Regions from separate parts of the Homo sapiens genome. Here all the other regions are linked to region 2. The links come from fine-mapping of genetic effects on gene expression. A gene starts in region 2. Each other region holds a variant in brackets. All regions are shown on one strand. Distances are between the middles of the regions.

Region 1 (8,273 bases), 460 kb after region 2:
AACAATAAAATTCCAGATTTGGAAAGGACCTGTAGGTCATTTGGCTTAACCTCCTTGAACTCACTGTAGAAATTTCTTCTACAAGCCTCTGTGTTATCTTTTTTTTTTTTTTTTTTCTGAGACGGAGTTTCGCTCTTGTTACCCAGGCTGGAGTGCAGTGGCACAATCTCAGCTCACCACAGACTCCTTCCCCCAGGATCAAGCTATTCTCCTGCCTCAGCCTCCTGAGTAGCTGGGATTACACGCATGCGCCAACACACCCAGCTAATTTTGTATTTTTAGTAGAGACGGGATTTCTCCATGTTGGTCAGGTTGGTCTCGAACTCCTGACCTCAGGTGATCCACCCACCTTGGCCTCCCAAAGTCTGGGATTATAGGCATAAGCCACCGTGCCTGGCCTGTGTTATCATTTACTGTCACTATATCATAATATCGAACAACTTTTACTAACAGAAATTCTTCCTCATTTCCCCAGACCAGTCACCATGCAATGTCCCCGCACTGGCCCCACTCTGCCCTTTAAAACATCCTTGAACATGTGTGTTCCTCTTCCCACACAGCTCTCCAGATGATTGAGGACCACACTCACATCCCTCTGAATCCACTGTTTATTCCTTTAACAAATATCTCTCTAGAGCCTGCCATGTTTCCAGCACGGAGGCAGGCACCTTGTAAACTCCACGAAGGCAGAGAGGTCAGTCTAACTTGCTTCATGTGGTAACCACAGCACCTAAAAGGGCTTTCTGTGCAGTAGGCATTTAATACATATTTGTTGAATAAATGAATGAATACGAAGGTGGATAACATAGTCTCTGTCCTCAAGGAACTCTTAGTGTAATGGGAGTGGGGGAACAGAACTATAGGCAATTCTAATCTAGGAGCCATGAGAGAATGTGAGTAGCAGAACCTCAAAGGACAGGCCCCTAACCCAGCATTCGTTACCTTCCCTTCTCCACTGTGAGGGATCATCCATTACCTTCCCTTCTCCACCACCTCCCTCATGCACTGTGATGTCAGCCACATCATTCTGTCATGGTATGTCTGCGTGTCTGTTTCCCAATGAACTGTCAGCTCTTTGAGGACAGGGACTGAGTTTTATTTAGCTTTATAACCCTAATGCTTAGCACAGGGTCTGGCCTAGAGGATGCATTTCTTATTTATTTATTTACTTAGATTCATTTTATTTATTTATTCGCTCTTGTTGCCCAGGCTGGAGTGCAGCGGCATGATCTTGGCTCACTGCAACCTCCACCTCCTGGGTTCAAGTGATTCTCCTGCCTCAGCCTCCCAAGTAGCTGAGATTACAAGTGCCCACCATATGCCTGGCTAATTTTTGTATTTTTTAGTGGAGACGGGGTTTCACCACGTTGGCCAGGCTGGTCTCCAACTCCTGACCTCAAGTGATCCGCCCACCTCAGCCTCCCAGAGTGCAGGGATTACAGGCGTGAGCCACCATGCCCGGCCCATATTCGTTAAATGAAGTGACTGACGGATGAATGGATGGCTAAATGAATTAATATATTAACACTCCCACAGAAAAAAAATGAAGTATCTGCTTTCATGGGATTAAATTAGTCTTGCCTGATATTTTATCAATACAAAAACTTAGTGAAATAGAAGTGACAGCAATCTTGGGAGGAAACGACCATGACACCTAGGGCTCCACAGAGCCTCACTGTTTCAACCAACATTGAATGAGCACCTACTCTGTGCCAGGTGTGCTGCCAGACTCTAGGTCAAGACAAATGAGACACAGCTCCTGCCTTGAAGGTGCTCCCCGACTAGATGAGGAGATGCACATGGAAATCACGAGGCCGCAGGTGACTCTGACAGGGTGACAAGGGTGCTGTGCAGGGTGGGATGGTCAGGAAAGCCACTTGGAAGAGAAGACGCCTGAACGGGGTCCCGAGGAAACTGTCCGGGTAAGGAGATGAAGGAAGGCCATTCTAGGTGGAGGGAGCAACAGGGGCAGAGCCCGAAGGGTGAGGACAGGCCGTTTGCAGGTACTGCATAGCACCTGGGGAGAGCAGGGAGTGGAGGGAGGGGGAGCGGTGGAGGTGGGGCCAGATCGGGAAGGGCCTTATAGGGCTGCTAAGGAATTTGGACTTGACCGTGATGAGGCCATGAGGGAGCCATTGAAAGAATTCCAAACTCCCAGGATAATCAGATTTTTTGCGTTTTAGAAGATTGTTCTTACAGCACTTTAGAAAATGGATTAGGCTTGCACGGTTGGTGGCTCACACCTGTAATTCCAGCACTTTGGGAGGCTGAGGTGGGAGGATCACTTGAGGCTAGTCGGCCTCCCCAAGTGCTTGGATTCCGGGTGTGAGCAGCACTGTCTCCCTGGCTGCTTCAGTCTTCTGCAGACAAAAGGCTCTGTTAAATTTGCAAGTTACAAGCACCTGAGCCACACAATGGGCCAATCAACCAAATCATGTGTAAAGCTATCTCCTGGCTGTGAGGAATAAAATCAATATTTTAAGACCTTAATTTTTCAAATGCTATACCCCAGAGGTGATTCATAACTTGAGGAGCGCCTCAGTAGGAGAACACGGGCTAAGGATTTGTGTGAACATGGCTTAGCCTGCAATTTCCCATATGCAATCGGTCAAAGGGCTGACAAAAGATAAAATCACAGAACTGTTCTGACACAGCTTCCCAGGGAGATCCCAGAGGAGCCAGGCTGCTCCCGCTAAGAAGCCTAGACTCAAAATAAGGAGAGAAGAAACTTGCACTAAGGAAGGAGCTGCGGCCCCCAGGGCTCTCCGAGTGCTGGTGTCTTCAAGAATTCCTGCATCCTTTGCACAAAGTGGGGCTGGTAAAGTGGCAGGGGTGGGGTGGGAACGGGGGAGAATGGGACTCTTCCAAACACTACCTTTAGAATAAAGTGTAAAATATTGGCCGGGCGGGGTGGCTCACACCTGTAATCCTACGAGGTGGGCGGATCAACTGAGGTCAGGAGTTCGAGATAAGCCTGGCCAACATGGTGAAACCCTGTCTCTACTAAAAATACAAAAATTAGCTGGGTGTGGTGGCGGGCGCCTATAATCCCAGCTACTTGGGAGGCTGAGGCAGGAGAATCATTTGAACCCAGGAGGCGGAGGTTGCAGTGAGCCGAGATTGCACCATCGTGCCATTGCACTCCAGCCTGGGGGACAAGAACGAGACTTCGC[T/TAAAA]AAAAAAAAAAAAAAAAAGTAAGCTATTTTCTGAGAAAGTGCCAGTCGTCTTGTATCCCTGCCCCTAAATCATCACTTCATGCAGGAAATTAGCCTCCTGTCCGTGGTGCATGTGCCATTAGGACCATGTGTCACTGAGTGGACTGGCATGGGGGTGGCGGATCAAGTTAAGAGTGTGGATGGAGGCCGGGTGCGGTGGCTCACTCCTGTAATCCCAGCACTTTGGGAGGCTGAGGCGGGCGGATCACTTGAGGTTGGGAGTTCAAGACCAGCCTGACCAACATGGAGAAACCTCATCTCTACTAAAAATACAAAATTAGCCAGGTGTGGTGGTGCGCGCCTGTAATCCCAGCTACTCGGGAAGCTGAGGCAGGAGAATTTCTTGAACCCGGGAGGCGGAGGTTGCGGTGAACCAAGATCGTGCCATTGCACTACTCCAGCCTGGGCAACAAGAGCGAAACTCCGTCTCAAAAAAAAAAAAAAAAAAGAGTGTGGATGGTTTGGTAAAAACTCACCTCACTAACGGAGGAAGCAACCAAACCCAGCCTAGAGAAATGGAGGCGGCGTAGCATCGTGGATGCTCCTGGATTGGCATGAAGAAGCCTTGAGTTCTGAGTCCCGGGCTCTGCCACTGTGTGACCTTGGACAAGACAACGATCCCTCTCAGCATCAGTTTCTGTAACACTAAAATAATGATAATAATCTCCTCCGTACTGGGTTCTTGGGAAGATGAAATGCGGTTAAGAAGATTTGCAGGAGCACTTTGCTGTTCCCTCAGACTGTGTATTAGTCAGGACACTGCTTTGGTTTCTGTAACAGAGACCAAAATAATAATGGCTTAAACGAAATAGAATTTATTTTTCTCTCACATGAAGCCCCACGCTGGTGTGGCTGCTCTGGCCTGTGAGGTCATCAGAGCCCCGCTTCTTCTGTCTTACTGGCTTCCTTAGCCTGCTCCAAGATGGCTCCCTGCCAGGACCACATGCCAGCCAGCAGAAGGGGCGGGGGGCCGAGGGAGGGCAACCCTGTCCACATAACCCAGCACTGTCTACACGCTTCCTCCCTCTTCCTGTTAGGGTCCAGCGTCACATCCACCTCTAAGAGAGGCTGGGAAATGCAGCTGTTTTCTGGGAAGCCTATACTCAACTAAAAATTCTGTGATTATGAAAGAAGAGGAAATGGACTTTTTTTTTTTTTAGATGGAGTCTCACTCTGTCGCCCAGGCTGGAGTGCAGTGGCGCGATCTCAGCTCACTGCAACCTCCACCTCCTGGGTTCAAGCATTCTTCTGCCTCAGCCTCCTGAGTAGCTGGGATTATAGGCGACTGCCACCACGCCTGGCTGATTTTTGTATTTTTAGTACAGACGGTGTTTCACCATGTTGGCCAGGCTGGTCTCCAACTCCTGATCTCAGGTGATCTACCCGCCTTGGCCTCCCAAAGTGCTGGGATTACAGGCTTGAGCCACCATGCCTGGCCCGAGGAGATGGACTTTGAGGGACAATTCAAAGTCCGCACGATCTCCCCTATTTGTTTGTCTAATTCCCTTACATCCTCAGGTCTCGGGTTTATGTCACTTCCTTGGGGAGGCCTTTCCAGACCCTCAGTGCTCCATGAGCCGCCCCCATTGCTCCCTCACGCCTCCTTCACAACACTCGCTGCGCCTGTAATTTTTGACTGACTGTCTATTTTCCCATGAGAAGGTAATTCTGTACCCATGGACTGTGCTTCCTCCCGAGGCCTGCCTGTGGAGGCACAGAGTGGATACTCGATACATCACTCTGACGGGTAGCGAGGTGCGATCCCCAGAGGGCTCTGGGAGCTCCTCGGGCAGAGCTTCACGGCTTCGGGCCACCACCAAGTCCTCTCCAACCCAGGATGTGTTTGGAAAGAAACTGGTGCCTGCTACTGCTTCCTCAGTGGTGGGCGTGCCGGCACCGTGTCCTTTTATCTGCTAGTCCTCTCTTTGTGTGGGCCTCTAGAACTGCTCAAGTCCAGCCTCAGATAGTCCGTGAGGGGGTAACTGTGCCTTTTCGTAATCTTGCTTCTCAACTCTGTTGTTCAGGATCTGGGAATGAACAGAGGGTGTTGTGGGAAGAGCTTTTCCCAGCACAGAGGCCAGAATGAAGGACACAGGGAGAGATTTGGTTTTCCATTCCCGGTCTCTATAATGCAACTAATGGGCCCGAAGCCTGCCCTGTGAAGAGGTGGGGAAGGAACCTCAGTAGAGGATGTCACCAGGGAGTTGACCCCCACCCCCTCTGTGGGGGCAGATGGCTCCCCAGGGTCTGGGCACTGTTTGGCTCCTGGGCAGCTCCCTGGTGCTCCACTTCAGTAACCTCTAGCTCACTCTGGCTTTTTTCTTTCTTTTTTTTTGAGACAGTCTCACTCTGTCGCCCAGGCTGGAGTGCAGTAGTGTGATCTTGGCTCACTGCAACCTCCACCTCCTGGGTTCAAGCAATTCTCCTGCCTCTGCCCCTGAGTAGCTGGAATTACAGGTGTGCCCCACCAGGCCCAGCTAATTTTTGTATTTTCAGGAGAGGCAGGGTTTCACCATGTTGGCCAGGTTGGTTTCAAACTCCTGACCTCAGGTGATCCACCAGCCTTGGGCTCCCAAAGTGCTGGGATTATAGGTGTGAGCCACTGCACCTGGTCTCACCCTTGTTTTGACATAAAACGCATCCTTTTCTAAGAAATCTTCTTAGCTCATTTTCTTTGTTCCGAAGAATGTCTTTTGGGAATTTCGTCAAACATGACTCTGGTTCTCGTGTTGAGTGGAGGGCTATGCCCTGGGGTTGACCTTTATCCCATTACATTCTCGGCACCCTCCATTTTTCTTTGATTTAAACTAGAGGGAAGCTTGGCTTGGGCTTGGAGCAGTCAGCTCTTTCTGGCAGTCTGCAGAGCTGCTGAAGGGGAAGTCACCAGACACCAAGCCCTGGCGGTTGCTAGGTGCTCAGGTTACACTGATACACAAAATGAGCGTATTCAAGACCCAAGTTCAAGTTTCCCTGCTTATAATTTTCTGGAGAGTCAGGGAGGGAGCAGCCATATCCTACCCACAGCCCCTGGGAACTCTGCCTCATGTCTGGCATCAAGGGAATCTTTCCTCCCAACGGTGGCACAGGACTGACCTGGGAACCCACACAATTGCAGCTTCATTCTGGCAGCTGGGGTTTTTGCCCCATAAAATGGCAGTGTCCCTTTAATTCCCTGCGGGTCTCCTCTCCGGGCTGGCAGTAGGTTAAATGGATCAACTGACCAGCCCTTTCTCACTGGGGGTTGTGGGATGGAAATTCTTCTTACTTGCTTCAGCTTGTGTCCAGGAACAAAGAACAGTTAAGCAGGGATTAACTTTTCCCTCTGTTGGTTTCTCTGTCCTTTCTCAGAAGAGTACACGTCTAATTCAGGGACATAGGTTCCTCTTGGAGCCCCACTTCTTTCCTTCCTTGACCATCCATGGAGCTATTGACTGTCCCAGCTGTTCTAGTCTTCTATACTCCCACTGTGGGGAGCAAAGTGTCTCTCTGGGTTGATTTCCCAGCGTGGCTCCTTGCAACTCTGATTTTAGCTTCACCTATTTCTCTCCAGCACATACCCTGGACTGGCCCTCTACACATTCCAAAAACTTTCTATTAGTGATGTTATTTCCCCAAGTAGCCTTCTTTTCTGAAAAGAGAATATATTGAACATCTTATACACACATTCTTGTTCTCATTGAGATTTGACAGCAAAGGGTGGTAGAAAGCGCACTGATTTGAGAGTTGGGGTTTCTGGGTTCTCATTCTACCTTTGGCATTAACTAGTGTGTGACATGGAGAAAGTCGCTTCCCTTGGCTCACGGTCCCCTCTATAAGGCCAGTGAGTCCTTCCAATGCTAACTCTCTAGTGTCTATATTGAATAATCTTGCCATCTCTTGTGGGTTTGATCAGCATTTTGTCAATCCCCATGACAAACCAGTTTCCAGTTTGGCATGTTTCTGGTGGAGCTAAGGCTGTTGGAACGTGGGAACTGGTCATGATCCATTCTTCATTCTCTCCATTGAGGGCACCCAAAATAAAAGCCAATGGTTTAACGACAGTACTCGGGATGGGGACAGCTGAGATTAGGCCCAGGACGCAACCTCCTCACACTGATATTGAGACCACAGGAGACTGTGGTATCTTGTTCTTGCGGATTCCATGACAACCTGAAGTGTCCATCTCAAAAATGTCATCCTACCACACCATATCCCTCGCCTCCTAAACTCACACCTTAGGCCAATCCTGAGGGCAGCATAGTAACTGGACATGACCCACCAACCATGCTCCAGAAGAGACATCCTGGCTGCCACAGGTCTGCACCTTCCCTGCTGAGGCAGAGCCTTCTTTCCTGAATTTGTTTGCCAAATTCATGTGTCCCCAAATGGTCCTTCTTATAGAGATGTCTGATTTGCAATCCTTACAACACCTTCATTGCTTTAAAAGAATGCAGGAATGGCTGAATAGGAACAGCTCCGGTCTACAGCTCCCAGCGTGAGCGACACAGAAGACGGGTGATTTCTGCATTTCCAACTAAGGTACCGGGTTCATCTCACTGGGAAGCGCCAGACAGTACGTGCAGGACAGTGGGTGCAGCGCACCATGTGCGAGCCAAAGCAGGGCGAGGCATCGCCTCACCCAGGAAGCACAAGGGGTCAGGGAATTCCCTTTCGTAGTCAAAGAAAGGGGTGACAGACAGCATCTGGAAAATCGGGTCACTCCCACCCTAATACTGCGCTTTTCCAACAGGCTTAAAAAACAGCACACCAGGAGATTATATCCCGCACATGGCTCCGAAGGTCCTACGCCCATGGAGTCTCGCTCATTGCTAGCACAGCAGTCCGAGATCAAACTGCAAGGCGGCAGCAAGGCTGGGGGAGGGGCGCCCGCCATTGCCCAGTTAGTTGTTTGATTAGGTAAACAAAGCGGCTGGGAAGCTCCATCTGGGTGGAGCCCATCACAGCTCAAGGAGGCTTGCCTGCCTCTGTAGGCTCCACCTCTGGGGGCAGGGCACAGACAAACAAAAAGACAGCAGTAACCTCTGCAGACTTAAATGTCCCTCTCTGACAGCTTTGAAGAGA
Region 2 (8,273 bases):
AAATGAAGCTGAGTTGTTAAAAAGTACAAGAGCTAATCCAACCAGATGGAGTTCAAAGACAGTAATTCAGCTTGCCCAGGCCTGTTTGCGATTGGTTTGGAAGCACATAGAGTCAAATATGACACGTATCCATGGCTACACTGATCATATTTCTTGGACATTCCTGTTGATAATTTTTGGTCCCATCATCTCTGTATTTTGGTTTGCAAGTTTAGATCACTGTACACTTCTTATCCAAGAAACCAGTGCTGTATATTCAAGTTAGGTTCTGTACATTCCAAGGCACCCTAATCAAGAGAAGGTCACCGTGCACGTGGAATTGTGCTGCACTTCACTAAAGGAAAGACTCAAGCTGTCACCAAGGTAGCAGTTCCCAAACCTACTTCATCAGAGACCTCCCTTTAATTAAAGGGGAAGACATTTAATCTCAGACAAATAAAAATAAGACAACAGTGTTCTGAATAAACCATCTGGAGAAACTAGTATCTTTGATGTTAGCAAGCCAAAATAAAATCTCTTTTCATTCTAGCATTTGGGAAACCTGTGTATCCCCGAGGCAAGCCTGCAATCTGGGAGAGAAGCCCTGCCTGGGTCCAGTGAGTCAGCATTCTTTTCCTTAATTATGAGCAGAAATCCAGGGATCACCAGACACTTAAGGAAAAATTTCAACCGAAACAAACATAATTCAGGGCACAGGAAAAAATTCAAAAGATATATTAAATTGGGCCTGCAAAATTTCTCAGAATATTAAATTGAATGACCAAAACATACAGTAAAAAGAACATAGGATAAATCCAAGAGGTCCAATACTTAAAAGAGTCTGAGTAAGGGAATTAAATGATCAAAGTAAATAGTTTTGGTTTGTACCTATACAGTCAGGTTATATACATCTATATAATGAAATACTATACAGCTATTTACTTAAAAGTTTTTTTCTTTAAAGATGGGGTCTTAACCCGTCACCCCCGCTGGAACACAGTCACAACTCAGTGCAGCCTTGAAATCTTGGGCTCAACTGATCCTCCTGCCTCAGCTTCCTGAGCAGCTGGCACTACAAACACCAGCCACCATGCCCAGCTGTACAGCTATTTTAAAAAAAGACCTACATATGCTGAAATGGAACAATAAAAAATAAAAAAATGATTTTAAAAACAGCACATGAAATACACTACCGCACACCCACAGGGTTACTTCTTGAAAGACGCCCAAGAAACTGGTAACTGACTGCCTCTGGCAAAGGGCATTAGGGGTTTAGAACAGTACGAGATTTTTATATTTTCACTACATTCTTTGGAATTTTTTTTTTTTTACGTGAAGGGCAAACATTCTTGAAAAACTTTTTGTTAAAGAACCATAAAGCATGGATTTCAGAAGAGAATATAAATAGTATCAGCTTTACAGTATAAGGGCAGAGACACACTGGGTGGAAAGTAGGAGGGAGATGAAGGAAAACGTAGGGACGAGTGCAGGGACGCTTATGAGCTACCACTCTCAGCTCTACCCTGGTTCAGCAGCTACATTAGATCCATGGGAAGGATACTCCACAAAACAGAATCCACATGCTGTTTTCTTCATTTTATCCAGACCCATAATGATTTTCTTTATGTCACCACTTTTGCTGAAGAGTTCATAGATTTGTTCTTCAGTTGTGTAAAAAGAAAGATTTCCAACATATAACGTACAGCTTTTCTTCAGTAATTTTTCTTGTTCTTCATTGTCACCCTAGAATTTCAAATAGAGACAAAAGTTAAGCAACTTCAGAGCCTTGCTTAAATAGTATTTCTAAGTACGGTAGAGACATTCATTAATTCTGGTTTGGAAATCAACTTCTCTCATCCCAGCCTACCAGAAATCCCTTGCCCAAAAAGGGGGATGTCGACCTTCTGTGAAGCACTTATGCGAAGTCCAGACTCTTAGTAGAGACAGGGCTCAAAAGTTATACCACATACAACAAAGTCACTTCTACGCCCGACTGCCACGCAAGCGGCTTCCCTTTTCCCTGCACACACCATATCCTCAGCAGTGCATCCTTTAAACCCAAGTGTAGACTCTGGACCTTGACCCAATATATGACAAAGGGCCCTTTTATCCTTCGTAGTGAAAAATAAGTGGGTTTTCAGAGAGAGAGAGAGTTCCTCTTTAATAACCCCCTAGAGACTGTTGAAAGCCACAACCTTGATGCTTTACGTGCTCATAGATCTTTCTCTGAGTTTAGGGGAAAATGTAGTGATCACTAAAAACAAAACAGAGCTCACTTTCTTAATGGGCTTCCAAATTGGGATGACAGGATGAAGCCAGAGACTTAAGCATATAACTGGGCTTCATCCAACACACCTGACAGACAAAGCCCTGGGTCCAAAATGGCTCATCGGGGTCAGGCGCGGTGGCTCATGCCTGTAATCCCAGCACTTTGGGAGGCTGAGGCGAGTGGATCGCCTGAGGTCAAGAGTTTGAGACCAGCCTGGCTAACATAGTGAATGAAACCCTGTCTCTACTAAAAATACAAAAATTAGCTGGGCATGGTAGCAGCGGGCGCCTGTAATCCCAGCTACTCGGGAGGCTGAAGCAGGAGAATCGCTTGAACCTGGGAGGTGGAGGTTGCAGGGAGCTGAGATTGCACCACTGCACTTGAGCCTGGACAACAAGAGTGAAACTCTATCTCAAAAAAAAAAAGTCCACAGGACAATAGTCATTGTATGTTAAAAAGAGGTTTTCGGAACTTTGGAGTGAGACATTAGAGAAAGTAAATTCCTTTCATTTTACTGCTGTTACTGATTTGTGAACATGGAAAGGAGGCATCTTCTTTTTCTACTTTTCTCACACATGTAAGTAAGATCCAAATAAATAGCCTACAGTTTAAGATAACTGTGGTGTAAGTGCTTAAAGTATATTAATATGGATTCCATTCACAGAATGCTAGAAATTCCACATGACAGTATGGCATTAGCATCTAAAAAAAGCTACAGGTTTAGACTGAGGAGATGAATAATAGACAAAGTCAGAAGGTTCCAGTTTTCATCTCACAGGATGCTTTAAGTTCAAAATGGTCAGGATGTGGAACTGTCTAAAGTAGTAACTAAAAGTGGTAGAAGTGCAAATCATGCCTGGCACTTAGGCATCCCAGCACTTTGGGAAGCCCCAGGCAGGTGGATCGCTTGAGTCCCAGAGTTCGAGACTGGCCTGAGCAACACAGGGAGACCCTGTCTCTACAAAAAATTAGCTGGATGTGGTGGCGCGAGCCTGTGGTCCCAGCTTCTCAGGAGGCTGAGGTGGGTAGGATCACTTAGGCTCAGGAGGTTGAGGCTGCGTGAGCCGTGATTGCGCCACTGCACTTCAGCCTAGGCAATAAAGCGAGACTCTGTCTCAAAAAATAAAATACATTAACTGAATAAATTTTTTTTTTTTGAGAAGGAATATCGCTCTGTTGCCCAGGCTGGAGTGCAGTGGCGCGATCTCACAGCAACCTCCACCTCCCCGGTTCAAGCGATTCTCCTGCCTCAGCCTCCCGAATAGCTGGGATTACAAGCGCCTGCCACCACGCCCGCCTAATTTTTGTATTTTTAGTAAGACGGGGTTTCACCATCTTGGCCAGGCTAGTCTTGAACTCCTAACCTCGTGATCCACCCGCCTCAGCCTCCCAAAGTGCTGGGATTACAGGCGTGAGCCACCGTTCCCAGCCTTGACTAAATAAATCTAAGAGCTTCCCTAATTTAGCGTCAAACAAAATTTCCCTTTCCCTACTCTAGTAACACATTTCACACATTCTCCACACTTACCCTCTGCTATATGCGCCCCTTCCTTTCCCAGTCACAAGGGGATTTTTCCCTTTTCTGAATCCTCACTACAGGGGATTATGAGCTCGCAGAGCGCAGAAACTGTCTTCCCTCTCCCTCTAGGGTTTAGCACAAGGATTTGGCGACAGCACTCGATAAACGTTTACTAAATAATTGGGTTAATGAGTCCCGCCCCGCCAACCCCCAACCGTATTCCATCCCTACCTCCGCTGATACTGAAAAGTCTACTTTGAATATCTGCTGCCTCCCCTTTTTCCACAAAATATACTGTGATATAGTCCGGACTAAAAATTTCCCTCTTCTGAAATCCAGCAATTCTCCGATCTTTACATCCGAACACCCTCAAAGTGCCGAGCTTGGCGGGTCCACCTCCCCACTCCGAAGCTTCCCCGAGGGCGGAGTGAGGACTCCACTTGTGTCTCCCACGCACCGCGTACAGCTTCCGTAACACCATCCTCCCAGAGAAGGGGCCCGAATCGCCGAAGGGCACTGCTTCGCCGATTTAAAAAACAAAGCAAAAAGCCCCGCATCTGCATCAGGAAGGCGCCTCTGCCTACTCTGGGAGAGAGAAGGGCACCCCTCCCCCTTGCTACGTAGTCGTCTGCGGAGGCACAACCGTGGAAACGGGAGCCGCCACCACCACCACCGCTCAAACCTCTCGGCACTGGCTGGGGTACAGGGAGCGGCTGCGAGCGAATGGGATAAGCGAGCCTCCAGTTCCCCGTCTTCCAGAGCAAGTGGCTTCAGTGATATCCAAGCGCCCTTCCAGCACCCATTCCCTGCCTCGCCAGCAGGCACCGGGGCCCCACTTGGCGTTTGCGGATTTCAGCTGAATGGGAGGCGACACAATGAGACAAGAGCAAACCGTTTCTCAGCGTTCTTGCCCAGGGCCTTCCCGTCTCGCGGCCCGGCCTCCCTCACCCGGAAGTGCTGGTCCCGGTACTGGCTCAGCTCCACGTAGGAGTCGCTGCGCAGCGCCTTCAGGAGGCCACCCGACATAGTGCAGAGAAGCGGACCACAATGCGGCGACTCCCGGCACGAGGCTGCGTCCGCGATGGCGGAAGCGGAAACGCGCGGAGGCGAGCATCTCATTGGACCCAATCCGAGGGCGGCGTGTCGTCATCAAGCTGCGCGGGGGCATAGACGTCCGGGTCGGGCGCCGCGGGGCGGAAGACGAGGGCGGCGAGGTCGGGTTCCGGGCGCTTGGAGAAGATGGTGCTGCGGCGGCTGCTGGCCGCCCTGCTGCACAGCCCGCAGCTGGTGGAACGTCTGTCAGAGTCGCGGCCTATCCGACGTGCGGCGCAGCTCACGGCCTTCGCACTGCTGCAGGCCCAGCTGCGGGGCCAGGACGCGGCCCGCCGCCTGCAGGACCTCGCGGCTGGGCCCGTGGGCTCCCTGTGCCGCCGCGCTGAGCGATTTAGAGACGCCTTCACCCAGGAGCTACGCCGCGGCCTCCGAGGCCGCTCGGGGCCACCACCAGGTAGCCAGAGGGGCCCTGGCGCAAACATTTAATCCTGGGCTGTGCGGGGCCGAGGCCGCTTGCTTTTCCTTCCGGGCTCTACAGTGGCATCAATGTGGAGGGGTCATTCCGGGCACTGCGCGCGGCTTCGAATCCCGACTGGGATTGTTGGCCTGCAGACATCCCACGCATAAGAGCCTAGGCCAGACCGCCCGCTCCGTTGAAGTCTTGTGATTGGACAAGACACAGTGTGGAGACAGCCCTAAGCCTAACAGAGATGAAGGTAGGCTGGGTCCAGACACGGCACCTACGGAGAGCCACGGACCGAAGCCAGAGAGCCTTTCCTCTGCAAGTGGGACTGAAACTCTTGACAGATGCTGCTCAATCTGACTGGTATAGCAGGACAGTTAATTCCAGGGACGATATGGATGAAAAGACAACCCTACAGCTGCCAAATTCCTTTGATTAAATGTGTGAGCTGGTTGATAGGCATGAGTGTGATACTTCTCAGGCAAGATGTGTTAAGAATACCGGGGACTGTAGGCCTATGGTAATAATAAACACGTATTTTATGAAATGAGTCTTCTGTGCTGGGACTTGCTCATTGCACTCTATGTGTTATCTCACTCCTTACAACGACATTCACATGAGGAAGCAGATTACTTTTTGGATTTTTTTGTAGAGATGGGGTGGTCTCGAACTCTTGGGCGCAAGTGATCCTCCCGCCTCAGCCTCCCAAAGTGCTGGGATTATAGGCAAGAGCCACTGCGATGGAAACAGAGGCTGCTGCTTAAGTTGCCCAAAGTCTTGCAGAGTGGGATGTGAGCAGAGGCATTTGACTCCAGGGCCTAAGTCCTTAACACAGCTCTGCAGCATTTACCCTGATACTCAACCCCTTCCTTCCCCAACCCCCCACCATCAGGCATTAAGACTACTGCCTAGGGGCAGGGCCTGGTGGCAGTTGTGTCTTATCCCAGCCACTGCAGAGGCAGGAGGATCGCATGAGCCTGAGATGAGACCAGCCTGGGTAGCATAGCGAGAACCTTTCTCAAAAAAAAAAAAAAAAAAAAAAAAGACTACTGCCTGCCATGGAACAAGTTACCTGGACTCCTATCCTGTGGGGAAAAGAGAGATCAGATTGTTACTGTGTCTGTGTAGAAAGAAGTAGACATAGGAGACTCCATTTTGTTCTGTACTGAGAAAAATTCTTCTGCCTTGAGATGCTGTTAATCTGTAACCCCACCCCCAACCCCCTGCTCTCTGAAACATGTGCTGTGTCCACTCAGGGTTAAATGGATTAAGGGCGGTGCAAGATGTGCTTTGTTAAACAGATGCTTGAAGGCAGCATGCTCGTTAAGAGTCATCACCACTCCCTAATCTCAAGTACCGAGGGACACAAACACTGCGGAAGCCCACAGGGACCTCTGCCTAGGAAAGCCAGGTATTGTCCAAGGTTTCTCCCCATGTGATAGTCTGAAATATGGCCTCGTGGGAAGGGAAAGACCTGACCGTCCCTCACAGCGTGACACCCGTAAAGGGTCTGTGCTGAGAAGGATTAGTGAAAGAAGAAGGAACGCCTCTTTGCCGTTGAAACAAGAGGAAGGCATCTGTCTCCTGCCCGTCCCTGGGCAATGGTGTAAAACCCGATTGTATGTTCCATCTACTGAGTTAGGGGAAAACCGCCTTAGGGCTGGAGGTGGGACATGGGGGCAGCAATACTGCTCTGTAAGGCATTGAGATGTTTATGTGTATGCATATCTAAAGCACAGCACTTAGTTCTTTACCTTGTCTATGACACAGAGACCTTTGTTCACGTGTTTATCTGCTGACCTTCTCTCCACTATTATCTTATGACCCTGACACATCCCCCTCTCCGAGAAACACCCAAGAATGATGAATAAATACTAAGGGAACTCAGAGGCCGGCGGGATCCTCGTCTGCTGAATGCCGGCCCCCTGGGCTCCCTTTTTTCTTTCTCTATACTTTGTGTCTCTTTCTTTTCCAAGTCTCTCCTTCCACCTAACGAGAAACACCCACAGGTGTGGAGGGGCAACCCACCCCTTCACTACCCCTCATTTTAGAGGGTCAGGGATACAGACAGACTACGATCCAGCCAGTTAGCAGACCTGCGATTAGGAAATCCATTGTATATAGAAATGTCCTGTCATTTGAAGCTCCTAGCTAAATTTCTGATTTTTTTTTTGAGACAGGACCTAACTCTTGCCCAGGCTGGAGTGCAGTGGCACAATACTAGCTGTCACTGCAACCTCGACCCGTTGGGCCAAGCGATCTTCCTCCCTGGGACTCCCAAGTAGCTGGGATTACGGGCCCATGACACTATGCCCAGCTAATTAAAAACTTTTTTTCTGTTTTTTTTGTTTTTTTGAGACGGAGCCTTACTCTGTCACCAGGCTGGAGTGCAGTGGTGCGATCTCGGCTCACTGCAACCTCCACCTCCCGGGTTCAAGTGATTCCCCTGCCTCATCCTCCTGAGCAGCTGGGACTACAGGTGCGTGCCACCATGCCTGGCTAATTTTTTGTATTTTAGTAGAAACGGAGTTTCACCACGTTGGCCAGGATGGTCTCGATCTCCTGACCTTGTGATCTGCCCACCTCGGCCTCCCAAAGTGCTGGGGTTACAGGTGTGAGCCACCGCGCCCAGCCACAATTTTGTTTTGTTTTGTTTTTGGTTGAAATGGCATTGCACTTTGTTGCCCAGGCTGGTCTTGAACTCCTGGCCTCAAGCAGTTCTCCTGCTTCCGCCTCCCAAAGTGCTGGGATTACTGGTGTGAGCCACCACACCCAGCTCTGATCATTTCTAGTTAGGCAGCACAGTTAATCATGCAATCTAGAAAGCTTGAAGCCATCGGAAAAATTGAGGCTGGTAACCAGACACTAGCTGAGTGTTGTGTGTTCTCTGCCCTCTGGGGCAGGATGGGAGGGCTTGAGACCCACAGTTCTAAGGAGGAAGAACACCTGGCTCCCTAATCTGGGAAAATGACCCCCTTTTTTTTTTTTTC
Region 3 (8,000 bases), 34 kb before region 2:
GGTTGCTTGTGTTTGTTGTCTGTTCTAGGTTCACTTCTTCAACAGCTTTTTTCATAGACAGCTGGTAACCAAAGGATATAATGGAGTAAAAAGATGGACTAAAAAGGTATTCTCTTTATTTCTTTTTTATTCCAAATTTGAAACGCAGATGATAAACCACTTTGTGTGGAAGGATAAGTACTTTAATGCCAATACGATGTTAAGTAGAAACAGACTTTTTAATGTGACAAGTTTTAAATTTGTTTCTTTTAAATCTTATTGTTTGAAAGACCTTAATTGCCTACTGGTCCCAATTATAGTGGTAGAACAGTGGGATGATAAAGAAGGAGCTGCCATCATTTGGTGTTATCTGGTAGGCTTGTCAGCAGACAGCAGAAGCTTTCAACAATTTTTTGCTGGTGCTGGGCACGGTGCCTCGCACCTGTTGTCCCAGCTACTTGGGATGCTGAGACCAGAGGATCACTTGAGCACAAGCATTTGAGGCCAGCTTGGGCAACATAGCCAGATCCTGTCTCTTAAAATGTTAACTGATCCATCAGGAGAAATAACTTTTATATCACAATCTATTCATAAAATCTTATACATACATGTAATTGAAATAATTTCCAAAAACCATGTACCTAATTTACTATGTATGATGTACTCTAGTCAGAGAGTGGTAAGTGCTATTTGCTATGGAAACATCAGAACACAGTATGAGAATACAAGGTAACTGGGATAGGGTAGCAGGAGGAAGATGGGCTAGTTCTTTTAGATAGGCTTGTCAGCAAAGGCCTCTTTGAAGAGATCCCATTTCACTGAAAACTGTGAAGATCAGAGGAGCATTCCCAGTAGATGGAAGAGTGAATGTTAAAGGCCCTGAAGCAGAAGTGAGTTTGGTATATTGGAGTATTACACACATGAGATCAGGGAAGGAGGCAGGGATCAAGTCATGTGGCGCCATATAGGCCCTGGTAAAGAGTTTGGATCATGAGGGCAATTTGAAGACATTAGAGAGTTTAGGCCAGGTGCGGTGGCTCACGCCTGTAATCCCAGCACTTTGGGAGGCTGAGGTGGGCGGATCACTGAAGGTCAGGAGTTTGAGATCAGCCTGGCCAATGTGGCGAAACCCTATCTCTACTGAAAATGCAAAAATTAGCCGGGCTGTGATGGTGGGCGCCTGTAACCCCAGCTACTTGGGAGGCTGAGGTGGGAGAATCGCTTGAACATGGGAGGTGGAGGTTGCAGTGAGCCGAGATTGCACTATTGCACTCCAGCCTTGGTGACAGAGCGAGACTCCATGTCAAAAGAAAATTAAATAAAAAATAAAAATGAAGACATTAGAGGGTTTAAGCAGCAGGCAAGGAGTGTGTATGAGTGTGTGTGTAAATGATAGATAGGATTGTCCTTAGCAACATTGATTCATTCATTCATCATTTATTTATTGATTTATTTTTTGAGATGGAGTCTTTCAGGCGCTATCTTCGCTCACTGCAACCTCTGCCTCCTGGGTTCAAGCGATTCTCCTGCTTCAGCCTCCTGTGCAGCTGGGATTACAGTCACCTGCCACCGTACCCGGCTAATTCTTGTATTTTTAATAGAGACGGGATTTCACTATGTTGGCCAGGCTGGTCTCTAACTCCTGACCTCAGGCAGGTGATCTGCCCGCCTCAGCCTCCCAAAGTGTTGGGATTACAGGGTAAGCCACCGTGCCCGGCATTAAACATTTATTGAGTACCTGTTATGTGCCTATATGGAAAAACTTTTTTCCTTTGCTGTCACACCACAACAGTAGTCAGCACAGAAGACTTCTGTGACCAAAGCAAGCAAGCAAGCAGTTCTGCAGCGACCACTGGCTGGATGCCCTCTAATTCAATTCCGACCTGTCTACCTGGAGACAGTGCCACGTCCCATAGTTTGAGGGCTCATGCCTCAAGAGTGCCCCCCACCCACTTCAGACACCAGTTGCAAGTCCAGGCTTCTGAAACTTCTGACCAACAGACTTCAAGTGAGGGTTCCCATGCCGCCCTCCTTGAATTTGATTAATTTGCCGGAGCGGTTCACAGAATTCTGGGAAGTTCTTACCTACATTTAGCAGTTTATTATATAGGATATTACAAAGGATTCAGATGAAGAGATGCATGGGAAGAGATGTAGGGGAGTGGGCACAGGGATTCTCTAGGACCTCCACAGGCACATCACCCTCCAGGAACCTCCACATATTTAGTATCCAGAAGCTCTCCCAGTGCAGTCAGTTTTTATGGAGGCTTCATTACATAGGCGATTGACTAAACCAGTGACCATTGGTTAACCTTTAGCTTCTCTTCTCTCCCTGGTGGTTGGGGGGTTGGGTGGGGCTGAAAGTCACAATCCTCTAATTCTGCCTTGCTCTTATCCTAAAGCCACCTAGCAGCTGCCAGCCATCAGTTAATCATCAACATACAAAAAGACATCACTTTGGGCCTGGGTCATGTCCCCGTAATCCCAGCACTTTGGAAGTCTGAGGCAGGCAGATCACTTGAGGTCAGGAGTTCAAGATCAGCCTGGCCAACATGGTGGAACCCTGTCTCTACTGAAAATACAAAAATTAGCTGGGTATGGTGGCATGTGCCTGTAGTCCCAGCTACTTGGGAGGCTGAGACAGGAGAATCGTTTGAACCCAGGAGGTGGAGGTTGCTGTGAGCCGAGATTGCACCACTGCACTCCAGCCTGGGTGACAGAGCAAGACTTTCTAAAAAAAAAGAAAAAAAGACATCAGAAATTCCAAGGACTTTAGGGAGTTGTATGCCAGGAAATGAGGTCAAAGACCAAATTTATTATTTTACAGTATCATAGTGCCAGACATTATAGTAAATCAAGAAATAAAGAGGTAAGTAAAACAATATTAGAGACAGTTTTTGCTTTCACAAAGTCTGCAGTCTAGTGGTGGAGACAGCACCTACCACAGTTTGTATTTATATTTTTGGTGGTGTAATTATTTGTTTAGTGGGTACAAAAGAAAAGTACTACAGGAGTGTATTGGAATGCAGGTTTGGTTAACCTAGCCTGAGGGTAAGGGAATGTTTCTCATAGGAAGTAATATTTAAGCAGAAATATCAAAGATGAATACAAGTTAACTAGGTAAATGGAGAATAGGGGTATGTGAAACATAGGCAGAAGGAATAAGTATCTGGTAGAAGAATGGGAAAAGGCTAGTGTAGCTGAAATGCAGAGAGTTAAGAAGACAGTGGCATGAAGTGTACCTGATCCACAGATCAGGGCCTTGAGGTTTGTATTTTGGATTTTATCCTAAATGTAATAGGAAACCATTGAATGGTTTTTAGTGACATTATCCACTTTGTAGTCTTTGTTCTAACAGTACTGAAGAAGATGGATGGGTATGGGAGCAAAGTTGATGTGGGCAGAACAGGAGACCATTTCAGATTCATGGTACTTTGAAGTAGAATGATAGCAGGAGAGATGGAAGATGAGTGTGATGTAGGAAGTAAAATTAACAGGATTTGGTGATAAGTTGGTTATGGAGATGAAGGACAAGGAAGTGTGAAAGATGACTTCCAAGTATGTGACTTGTATGACTGGACGGCCTATGGTTGTATTTACATTAGAAAAATGTAGGACAACTAGTAGAGGATTGTTCAAATTTAAAATGTACAGTCATATAATTGGATGCTACTTAAGCAGGAAAAGCTGTGTAGATAATGAACGATGGGCCGGGCACAGTGGCTCACATCAGTAATCCCAGCACTTTGAGGGGCCGAGGCAGGC[G/A]GATCACGAGGTCAGGAGATAGAGACCATCCTGGCTAACACGGTGAAACCCCATCTCTATTAAAAATACAAAAAAATTAGCCGGGCGTGGTGACGGATGCCTGTAGTCCCACTTACTCAGGAGACTGAACCCAGGAGGCGGAGCTTGCAGTGAGCCAAGATCGCACCACTGCACTCCAGCCTGGGCGACAGAGAGACTCCGTCTCAAAAAAAAAAAAAAAAGATAATGGAAGATGCTTATATTCCATTTGGGGTGGGAAAAATTACAAGCAGTGTGGGCAAAAAATATACATTCATGGAAAAGTATCTGAATGATAAACATGAGAGTGAAAGAATAAAGTCAAATATGTGAGTTGTTTCATTAAATAATAAACTAAATTATTCCTTCCTCTAGATCAGGGGTGTCCAATCTTTTGGCTTCCCTGAGCCTCACTGGAAGAAGAAGAGTTGTCTTGGGCCACACATAAAATACACCAACACTAACAATAGCTGATGAGCTAAAACAAAAAAAATTGCAAAAAAGATCTCATAAAAGAAAGTCTACAAATTTGTGTTCGGCTGCATTCAGAGCCGTCCTGGGCTGCATGCTGCCCGTGGGCTGTGGACTGGACAAGCTTGCTGTAGATCCTCTGAGATTGGGTTAAGTAAAAAAAAAAAAAACCCAGGTTTATGCTGAATATAAGAAGTATACATAAAATAATATGAAAAAGAAAGGTTGAAAATGAAGTGACATTTAAAGAGGCTGGGCGCTGTGTCTCACATCTGCAGTCTGAACACTTTGGGAGGCCTAAAATTACTGTAGATGGGAGGATTGCTTGAGCCCAAGAGTTTCAAATCAGCCTAGGCAACCAAGCGAGACCCCGTTTCTATAAAAAATTTAAAAAACTTAGCTGGCCATGGTGGCAGCCTGTGGTCCCAGTTATCCAGAAGGCTGCGGTGGGAGGATCACTTGAGCCTGGGAGGTCGAGGCTGCAGTGAACCCTGATCACGCCACTGCACTCCTGCCTGGGTGACAGACTGAGACCTTGTCTCAATTTAAAACAAATAAAAAAGGCAACTACAGGAAAGTTAAACAACCTGTTCCTGAATAACTCCTGGGTAAATAAAGAAATTAAGGCAGAAATCAAGAAGTTCTTTGAAACCAATGAGAACAGAGAGACAATGTACCAGAATCTCTGGGACACAGCTAAAGCAGTGTTAAGAGGGAAGTTTATAGCACTAAATGCCCACATCGAAAAGCTGGAAAGATCTCAGATCAACATCCTGACATCACAATTAAAAGAACTAGAGAAGCGGCTGGGCGTGGTGACTCATGCCTGTAATCCCAGCACTTTGGGAGGCTGAGGCGGGTAGATCACCTGAGGTCAGGAGTTTGAGATGAGCCTGACCAACATGGAGAAACCCCATCTCTACTAAAAATACAAAATTGGCTGGGTGTGGTGGCACATGCCTGTAATCCCAGCTACTTGGGAGGCCGAGGTAGGAGAATCACTTGAACCCGGGAGGTGGAGGTTGTGGTGAGCTGAGATTGCGCCATTGCACTCCAGCCTGGGCAAGAAGAGTGAAACTCTGTCTCAAAACAAACAAACAAAAACAACAACAAGGAAATAGAGAAGCAAGAGCAAACAAATCCAAAAGCTAGCAGAAAACAAGAAATAACTAAGATCAGAGCAGAACTGAAGGAGATAGAAACACAAAAAAACCCTTCAAAAAATCAGTGAATCCAGGAGCTGGATTTTTTGAAAAAATTAACAAAAAATACCTCTAGCTAAACTAAAGAAGAAAAGAGAGAAGAATCAAATAGACACAATAAAAAATGATAAAGGGGATATCACCATTGACCCCACAGAAATATACAAATTACTATCAGAGAATACTATAAAGACCTCTACACAAATAAACTAGAAAATCTAGAAGAAACGGATAAATTCCTGGACACATACACCTTCCCAAGACTAAATCAGGAAGAAGTGGAATGTCTGAATAGACCAATAACAAATTCTGAAATTGAGGCAGTAATTAATAGCCTACCAACCACAAAAAGCCCAGGACCAGATGGATTCACAGCCAAATTCTACCAGAGGTACAAAGAGGAGCTGATACCATTCCTTCTGAAACTATTTCATAACAATTGAAAAGGAGGAACTCCTCCCTAGCTCATTTTATGAGGCCGGCATCATCCTGATACCAAAACCTGGCAGAGACACAAAAAAAGAAAATTTCAGGCCAATATCCCTGATGAACATCGGTGCGAAAAATTCTCAATAAAATGCTGGCAAACCAAATCCAGCAGCACATCAAAAAGCTTATCCACCATGATCAAGTTGGCTTCATCCCTGGGATGCAAGGCTGATTCAACATATGCAAATCAGTAAACATAATCCGTCATATAAACAGAACCAGTGACGAAAACCACATGATTATTTCAGTAGATGCAGAAAAGACCTTCGATAAAATTCAGCATCCCTTCATTTAAAAACTCTCAATAAACTAGGTATTCATCAAACATATCTCAATAATAAGAGCTATTTATGACAAACCCATAGCCAATATCAGTGGGCAAAAGCTGGAAACATTCCCTTTGAAAACTGGCACAAGACAAGGATGCCCTCTCCCATCACTTCTATTCAACATAATATTGGAAGTTCTGGCCAGGGCAATCAGGCAAGAGAAAGAAATACAGGGTATTCAGATAGAAAGAGAGGAAGTCAAATTGTCTCTTGCAGATGGCATGATTCTATATTTAGAAAATGCCATCGTCTCAGCCCCAAAACCCCTTACGTTGATAAGAAACTTTAGCAAAGTCTCAGGATACAAAATCAATGTGCAGAAATCACAAGCATTCCTATACGCCAGCAATGGACAAGCAGAGAGCCAAATCATGAATGAACCCCCATTCACAATTGCTACAAAGAGAATAAAATACCTAGGAATACAGTTTATAAGGGATGTGAAGGACCTCTTCAAGGAGAACTACAAACCACTGCTCAAGGAAGTAAGAGAGGACACAAACAAATGGAAAAATATTCCATCCTCGTGGATAGGAAGAACCAGTATCTTGAAAATGGCCATACTGCCCAAAGTAATCTTTTTTTTTTTTTTTTTTTTTTTTTTTTTGAGATGGAGTCTCGCTCCATTGCCCAGGCTGGAATGCAGTGGCATGATCGTGGCTCACTGCAACCTCCACTTCCCGGGTTCAAGCAATTCTCCTGCCTCAGCCTCCCGAGTAGGTGGGACTACAGGCATGCACCACCATGCCCAGCTAATTTTTTGTATTTTTAGTAGACACAGGGTTTCGCCGTGTTAGCCAGGATGGTCTCGATGTCCTGACCTCGTGATCCGCCTGCCTCGGCCTTCCAGAGTGCTGGGATTATAGATGTGAGCCACCACTCCTGGCTGCCCAAAGTAATTAATAGATTTAATGCTATTCCCATCAAACTACCATTGGCATTCTTCACAGAATTAGAAAAAACTACTTTAAAATTCATATGGAAACAAAAAAGAGCCTGTATAGCCAAGACAATCCTAAGCAAAAAGAACAAAGCTGTAGGCATCACATACCTAACTTCAAACTATACTACAAGGCTACAGTAGCCAAAACAACGTGGTATTGGTACCAAAACAGGCATATAGACCAATGGAACAGAACAGAGACCTCAGAAATAACACCACACATACACAACCATCTCATCATTGACAAACCCGACAAAAGCAATGGGGAAAGGATTCCCTATTTAATAAATGATGCTGGGAAAACTGGCTAGCCATATGCAGAAAACTGAAACTGGACCCCTTCCTTACACCTTATACAAAAATTAACTCAAGATGAATTAAAGACTTAATTGTAAAACACAAAATCGTAAAAACCCTAGAAGAAAACCTAGGCAGTACCATTCAGGACATAGGCGTGGGCAAAGACTTCATGACAAAAACACCAAAAGCAATTGCAGCAAAAGCCAACATGGATTCTAATTAAACTAAAGAGTTTCTGCTCAGCAAAAGAAACTATCATCAGAGTGAACAGGCAACCTATAGAATTGGATAAAATTTTTGCAGTCTACCCACCTGACAAAGATCTAATATCCAGAATCTACAAGGAACTTAAGCAGATTTACAAGAAAAATAAACCATCAGAAAGTGGGCAAAGGATATGAACAGACACTTCGCAAAAGAAGACATTTATGTCTGTAGTCTCAGCTACTCGAGAGGCTGAGACAGGAGAATTGCTTGACCTGGGAAGTGGAAGTTGCAGTGAGC

Evidence for each region.
Region 1: its variant is fine-mapped to the expression of NCBP2 in monocytes after interferon gamma (Fairfax 2014, PIP 0.95).
Region 3: its variant is fine-mapped to the expression of NCBP2 in whole blood (INTERVAL, PIP 0.97).

What each region holds. Positions count from the first base shown.
Region 1 is chr3:197,402,282-197,410,554 of GRCh38, forward strand. No RefSeq gene overlaps it. Among named protein-coding and RNA genes, the nearest start is that of LINC02012, 100 kb to the right of the region's middle. RefSeq lists an enhancer at 7,412-8,273. The variant T/TAAAA (reference allele first, on the strand shown) is at 3,174.
Region 2 is chr3:196,937,711-196,945,983 of GRCh38, forward strand. It overlaps NCBP2 (nuclear cap binding protein subunit 2), which reads right to left and starts at 4,818. Exons shown (of 4, transcript NM_007362.5): 1 at 4,716-4,818; 2 at 1,541-1,722. The coding sequence starts at 4,793. NCBP2AS2 (NCBP2 antisense 2 (head to head)) reads left to right here and starts at 4,964. Exons shown (of 1, transcript NM_001355243.2): 1 at 4,964-5,833. The coding sequence starts at 5,007. The coding sequence ends at 5,306. It overlaps NCBP2-AS1 (NCBP2 antisense RNA 1), which reads left to right and starts at 2,167. Exons shown (of 3, transcript NR_046630.1): 1 at 2,167-2,417; 2 at 3,264-3,432; 3 at 4,683-4,824. RefSeq lists enhancers at 4,150-4,823, 4,282-4,521, 4,552-4,691, 4,742-5,041, 4,824-5,497 and 2 more.
Region 3 is chr3:196,903,505-196,911,504 of GRCh38, forward strand. It overlaps SENP5 (SUMO specific peptidase 5), which reads left to right. Exons shown (of 10, transcript NM_152699.5): 6 at 29-106. Among named protein-coding and RNA genes, the nearest start is that of NCBP2-AS1, 32 kb to the right of the region's middle. The variant G/A (reference allele first, on the strand shown) is at 3,745.